Homo sapiens: one gene and its partner. The protein of the gene in region 1 purifies or fractionates together with the protein of each later gene. This does not show direct contact. Each region holds a gene or a part of one and is shown on either strand. Other genes may lie near its edges.

What was found. Proteins that work in one complex are often made in the same cells at the same time.
Region 2: the proteins of KPNA1 (region 1) and NUP153 purify together in Homo sapiens (affinity purification with mass spectrometry; 3 studies listed by BioGRID and IntAct, with this or other methods). This does not show direct contact.

What each region holds. Positions count from the first base shown.
Region 1 is NC_000003.12:122,421,401-122,424,823, forward strand, and holds the end of KPNA1 (importin subunit alpha-5), read right to left. Parts: 3' UTR 502-3,423; downstream 1-501. UniProt on the Homo sapiens protein: Functions in nuclear protein import as an adapter protein for nuclear receptor KPNB1. Binds specifically and directly to substrates containing either a simple or bipartite NLS motif.
Region 2 is NC_000006.12:17,630,311-17,633,964, reverse strand, and holds part of NUP153 (nuclear pore complex protein Nup153), read left to right. Parts: intron 1-1,120; coding exon 1,121-1,315; intron 1,316-3,654. UniProt on the Homo sapiens protein: Component of the nuclear pore complex (NPC), a complex required for the trafficking across the nuclear envelope. Functions as a scaffolding element in the nuclear phase of the NPC essential for normal nucleocytoplasmic transport of proteins and mRNAs.

The DNA.
Region 1 (3,423 bases):
TATACCCATCAGCTTTTTTTTTTTTTTTTTTTTTTGAGATGGAGTCTTGCACTGTCACCCAGGCTGGAGTGCAGTGGCGCAATCTCCACCCACTGCAAGCTCTGCCTCCTGGGTTCACACCATTCTCCTGCCTCAGCCTCCCAAGTAGCTGGGACTACAGGCGCCCGCCACCACACCCGGCTAGTTTTTTGTACTTTTAGTAGAGACGAGGTTTCACCATATTAGCCAGGATGGTCTCGATCTCCTGACCTCGTGATCCACCTGCCTCGGCCTCCCAAAGTGCTGGGATTACAGGCATGAGCCACCGCACCCGGCCACTAGCTTTTCTAAGACACTTTGTTTGTTTTTAAATACCAGACCTCTGCTATGACAATGTTTGATTTTGTAAACTTCAGGTCAAATCATGTCTTCTGAAAAGTAACTGCATATAAAACACGTTGAGACATTTGCTTAAGATGTTGATCCTGGTTTCAAGTAACAGCATAAGGGAATTCCTTTGAATTTTCTTTTATCAAGCACCCTTTACTAACATCACAAAGATGCATGCATATTCCTTCATTTAGTATTTATTGAATGTCTACTATGTGCAAGGCACTCACCCATGGCCTGACAGACCACATTCAAGTACAAAGAATCATTAGAGCCATTCCAAATCTAAGTGTCAGAACACTTTGAAGCAGGATGTAGAGTGGTCAGAATGACTTGAGGTAAAGCAGAAACACTCAACAACCAGTACATTAAAAGGTGATTTTAATTTTTGACATTCCTTGGGATGATATTCCTTTAGGAAGAAGTAGACTGTGTTAAATTCGCATCCATGGCACTGCTTCCTGAGGCAGTAATTCTTCAAAGCCTTTCCTTCCGTGTCAATACTTTCCACATTTGTGCGTTTGAATGGATCCATGTGTTTAGCCATTATTTTACTAAACACAAAATCATTTGCACAAAAAAAAAAAAAAAAAAAACCTATTACCATACTTGTCTGGTCATACAGAATTTTAGCACCACAGAAGAGGAAAGATGTTTGGCCTGAGAGGGCCTACACTCCAGTCTGTGTAACCTAAAAGCAACTTAAGCCTGATTTCGTCATTTTAAGGGTGCTGATGGTAAGCAGGAGTCAGGAAGAATGGTCTAACAAAAAAGGCTGGCCCAGCTGTGGTTGCCAAGTCTAGTTCTGGGAGATCCTGGGCACGGAACTACTGCGTGGCCACTGCTTTCTTCAAGACACAGAATTTGCAGGGCTCTTCCCCGCCCTTGGACAGCCATCTAAGTGTTGTAACCTTGGGGCAAAGTAATTTCTCGTAAGTCTTCACTTTGTCATCTATAATATAGTGACAATTATCAAAGAACATTTGGAAGACTACATGAGAAAAAAGGAAAGCCCTTAGCCAGGTATCTGGTGTACAATAGATGATCAAATAAAGACATGTTACCTTAATTTGACCTACAGGGAAAACACTCTGGGACTTCGTTTACCCTTAGTTGAAAACAGAACGGAACACTTCTTTTCTTTCTTCTTACCCCAAGCTTCCAGATGTATTTTATGTCCAGTAGCAATTTGATATTTTAAATTAGCATATAAATATTTGCTTTATCAGATATTCTGATGTCCTGGTATCCATTGTTATAACCTGTATATAACCTGTAATCCTGAACTGCTGGGATTACAGGCATGAGCCACCACATCCGGCCATAAACCCAGTAATTTTGTATGGCAGATAAAACATTTTATGGAATATTCTTTATGATAGCCAACTTACTGTAGTAGTCACATCTGACCTTTGATAATTTTTTTAAATTAAGTTCTGATGACAGGAAAAGATAGACCAAAATATTTCCCAACCTGGCAGATATATACTTAATCTGTTCAGCTCACAACAGAGAGAAATGGTCATATTGAGATGGATAAAAATTCAGATTTGAGACTTCCATGTATATAGGCATACCTGTGTCTGCAAATGAGCACATTTTGGAACGTAGGAGTTAGCATACAGTATGAAAGTTGAAAGCAAACAATGCTGGTTTCTAAAAGTGGATCCCTTTTCTTCACTGAACATCATCCTTAGACACCACAATTTCCAATATACTTAAAAACCATCAACCCCTAAAAAGTTATAATGATTTGCCTATTGATATAAAAATTTTCACAAAACTAGCGAGAAAGAAAAACCCCTTGACTCCAGGAAAACCTTTTCATAATGCATCCCCCAAGTTGGGGGATTAAATCGCTGAAATGTTTATTTAGCACTAGAGAAGTAAATTCAAAGTTGCCTGTGGGTAGACGTACAATAGAATTGGTTGACAAAGTTTGGTTTATAAAATATACTTACATATTGTTTCTTAGGCAAAAATCGGCAGCAATCTGGAATAATTCAGATTTTTTATGAGATTAATTGCCAATCTTTTTATCTGTGACGATAATGCCAAAAATGACTCAGAGCCAATAACCTTCATCTGTCATATGGAAGAAACAATCCTAGGGCAATAGTTTTTTCAAAAGCGGAACTGACAAAGATAAGCGTTTAAAAGGGTCTTGATCAATTAGTTACAGGAACATGAAAGAAAGTGTTCCACAGAGAACTGTGTCTCCTAAAATCTCTTTCTTCTATCATCTACCTTACCCAAAATTTCTCAATCCAACCACATCTACCTGCTGGTCCATCAGATACCAGATGCCTTTACATCCAAAATTCTCTTAATGCTTTTTTTCCCCCACCAAAGTTCTCATTACAAATAATATAGATTGGAAGTTTGGAGGATGGAGGGGAATAAAAAGGAAAAGTAAAACAAAGTCACTTTCCCCAATCCATATATAAAACTACAAAAGAGTTTTCCTGTATTGAAATTAACATGCTTTTGTAATGAGCAACGCCTTAGTGGTAGGGTATTCAGTGAATTTAAACTAAGTTAACAGAATCTGAGAGGCAAAGAACTAAAAACAGGATATACAGTTACCCCTTAAAATGTCATTTCTGTTACCAAAAAGCCTGCTTCAGTACCAAGTTCCAACATATCTGAGTTATGCTACTTCACTTTTAGCCAATTCCAACTTTGATACTTTAAGAAAAAATCATTTTATTGTTAAAAAAGAAAAAAAAACTTAGATCTTATAGTTCATGAACTTCTAGGACAAGATAAATTCCTCTGTTTTAGACACAAAATAGATCACGTCAGTTAAATAGACTTTGTTTTAATTCACTCACTGAAACATCTCCAACTACTAGCAAAAATTCCGAATGTCTGAATGCACACTACTCTTCCTAATGTGGGGAGACAACTGTGTGCTTTGTATCTTTCCCACTCAAATTGGCTTATAAAATGAAATTATTTTAACTATCCAATGGAAGGTACATAATTTAAAACATCCTATAGAAATGACATGTTACTAGTAATTTACAATTTTAAAAAACAGCCACAAAAAAG
Region 2 (3,654 bases), on another chromosome or scaffold:
GAAGTGTAGATTGCAGGTGTAGATTAGGAAACTGTTTTTTGGGGATTTAAAAACCACTGGAGTAAATGAGAGTTTGTGAGGACAGTGGGCCAAGATGGAACCCCAGGGAGCAATTTGGTTGGCAAGATGGAAGAGAACATACCTATAAAATGTAGAGATCAGTTAGGTAACTATGGAAGAGGTGGCGACAGTTGTAGGCCATCTAGAGAAGTAGGAATACCAGAATGAATGGCTTCACTGTCAGCACTATATTTTGGGCCTTACCAAGCCGTTCTTCCTGTGCCACCTCTCCCACAAACATGCTAGTTTTGCTTAAGATTTGTCACCTCTGTGTATCCTTTTCCTGCCTCTTAGTCATTTCTTCCTTCTTTGCACACTTGTTTTAGGTTGTCACTTGGTGATGGTGCCACTGTGCTTTTATTTTCCCCCTTTAAGACCATGAGCATCTTACAAGTTAAGCAACATTTTATTCATCTTTAATGTCCCCAGAACCCAAGTATATTATGATGCTTAATAAATGTCTGTTAAATGGCTAGCATGTAACAAATGTCAGGAATGTAGTAGGTGTCAAGTTAGATTGTGAAGTGGATGTGAAGTAGATGCACTTCTGTGCAAAAGCTATCATTCAGAGGCAGAGATCTATGCTTTCAAATCTTGAAATTCATATGGTCTGTGGCTGTGTATTTTATATGTTAGGATATTGCCTACAATTTACATCTTATGTCTTAGAATGCTTGCTGCTTTGAAGAAATTTGAAAAAGATTCTTAAGAAAAATTTAGTCTTTGAGCCCCTAATTTGCGAGCATGATTTTTTTTCTTAAACCACAGCAGTTCAAACATGTGGTTAAGGGGGAGCTCACCAGTGAGCAAGGTGATTATGAGCTGCTCATTTATAAGGTTAAAAGAAATCATTTATAAGGTTAAAAGAGAGGTCTATTCTTTTTTTTAAACAATGTAAATATGAACAGTTGTCTATTTCTGGCACATTCTGTGTTTTAATAGGAAATATTATTAGAAACTGAACACTTAAACTTAGCAGTGCCATTAAGATACTGACATACTGTAAATTAAAATTTTCATGAAATCTCCCCCCACTCCCCGTTTTTTTTTTTTTTTTTAGGAAGTTCAGTACCTGCTTCAAGTAGCAGCACTGTACCTGTCTCTCTGCCTTCTGGAGGCTCTCTAGGATTGGAAAAGTTCAAGAAACCCGAGGGAAGCTGGGACTGTGAATTGTGCCTAGTGCAGAATAAGGCAGACTCTACCAAATGTTTGGCATGTGAAAGTGCAAAGCCAGGCACAAAATCTGGGTTTAAAGGTAAGGCCAAAAAAATAAAAATAAAGGTGATGGTAAAGCGCCTTTTTGTAAGGCCATTTAAAAATGAAGTATTTGAGAACAGCTTCAGTGTTCACTCATTCTCTCTTGAAAATTAATATAAAATGAGATTATCCTGAGATGTTTTAGTTATATCTGTTTCTGAATATTGTAAGGTCATATTAGTTGCTTGTCAACAGTGAGGTATCTTTTCTCCAGGTGGGAAAAAAAATTTCTTGTGTCATTGAGCCTCAGAGAGTTTTTGTTTTTTGTTTTTAACTGCTAGCCCCCTAGGTGAACTGTTCTTTGTTTTTTTGTTTGTTTGTTTTTTTGTTTGTTTGTTTGTTTGTTTTTGAGACAGTTTTGTTCTTTTGCCCAGGCTGGAGTACGGGGGCGCGATCTCTGCTCACTGCAATCTCCGCCTCCCAGGTTCAAGCAATTCCCTGCCTCAGCCTCCCAAGTAGCTGGGATTACAGGTGTGAGCCACCGCGCCCAGATGAACTTACTGACTTTTATTTGACTGGGAATACACCTCTAAATTAAAAGCGATACAGGCTGTGGCTTTGGTTTCCCAAAGTAGGTCCCAGGAAAAGAACTCTTAATATTTTACTATATAAGTACAAAGGAAGACTCCCTCAAAGTAATTAATCCTAAACTAACTGGAGGCCAGATTTTTGTGTTTTTTTTGAGATGGTGTCTTGCTCTGTCGCCCAGGCCGGAGTGCAGTGGCCGATCTCTGCTCACTGCAAGCTCCGCCTCCTGGGTTCATGCCATTCTCCTGCTTCAGCCTCCCGAGTAGCTGGGACTACAGGAACCTGCCACCACGCCTAGCTAATTTTTTGTGTTTTTAGTAGAGACGGGGGTTTCACCATGTTAGCCAGGATGGTCTCAATCTCCTGACTTCGTGATCCACCCGCCTCGGCCTCCCAAAGTGCTGGGATTACAGGCGTGAGCCAACACGCCTGGTCTGGAGGCCAGATTTTTCAAGTCTTCTGTAAAAGAGTAAGCCCGCAAGGAGAAAATGTGTGAGGATTAATGTCTTGAAACAACTCAGACAGATATTTCATCTTCTTACTTATAAGTTGTAGCTAAATAAAGTGTACTCAGTGGACAGAGTGTAGACCCCTAGAACGGTGAGAGGATGGGATGGGGGGTAGATGATGAGAAATTAATTAATGGGCACAATGTACATTATTTGGGTGATGAATATACTAAAAGCCCAAACTTCACTGCCAGGCAACATATCCATGTAACAAAATTGCACTGGTAATCCTTAAATTTATACAAATTAAACAAAAATAATAGCAAGCTTTATCTACTTTGTAATTAGCTTTCAAACTCTTGATTGCAAACCAAAAGTCAGGAATAAACCTTTTATATTGTGAGCCATCACCTGCACAGCGTATATGTCTATATGATTGAAATCTGTTTTGCAAAATAATACTTGCCTCTGGTAGGTGTAAGGTTCCCTGGTATTTTCTGTTTTATTTTATTTTAAAAGAGAAGTGCTGGTTGCAGCCTGCTAAATTAATTGATGATTAATGGTATACAACTAGCAGTTTGAAAAACACTGCATTTAAGTGTTTTAGAAGTTTGTGCTTTCTGGTTCATTTTATCTCTTTCTGTAGCTGTTAATTCATGCTCCCCTTTTTATACTGTTCTCTACCTGTAGTGTGGTAATCACCATACTTTTAAGTATCTTAGTACTTCTTAATGATCCTTGTTTTGAGCCAGTAGGTCAAGTACTTCATTTCTGATTTCCTTAGCTGCAGAAAAGCATTATGAAACCAAGACTTTGATCTTGTCAGTATAATGCTTGCTCTCTTCTCTTTTCTCTTCTCTCCTCTCTCTTCTCTCCTGTCTTCTCTCTTCTCTCCTCTCCCCTCTCCCCTCTCCCCTCCCTTCTCCCCTCCCCTCTCCCCTCTTGTCTCCCCTCCCCTCTCGTCTCCCGTCTCCTCTGCTCTCCTCTGTTTTCTTTTCTTTATTTATTTTGAAGTGGAGTCTCACTGTTGACCGGGCTGGAGTGCTGTGGCGCAATCTTGGCTCACTGCAACTTCTACCTCCCGGGCTCAAGCAATTCTCCTGCCTCAGCCTCTCAAGCAGCTGAGACTACAGGCACAGACCACCATGCCTGGCTGATTTTTTTTGTATTTTTAGTAGAGATGGGGTTTCGCCATGTTGGCCAGGCTGGTCTTGAACTCCTGACCTCGGGTGATCTGCCCGCCTTGGCCTCCCAAAGTGCTGGGATTCCAAGCGTGAGCTACCACGCCCAGTCTGATGTTTAACTTTATAAACATTGCTTCAACTCTGTAATTCTTCTGTTTTTCTGTTGCCTTCCTTTT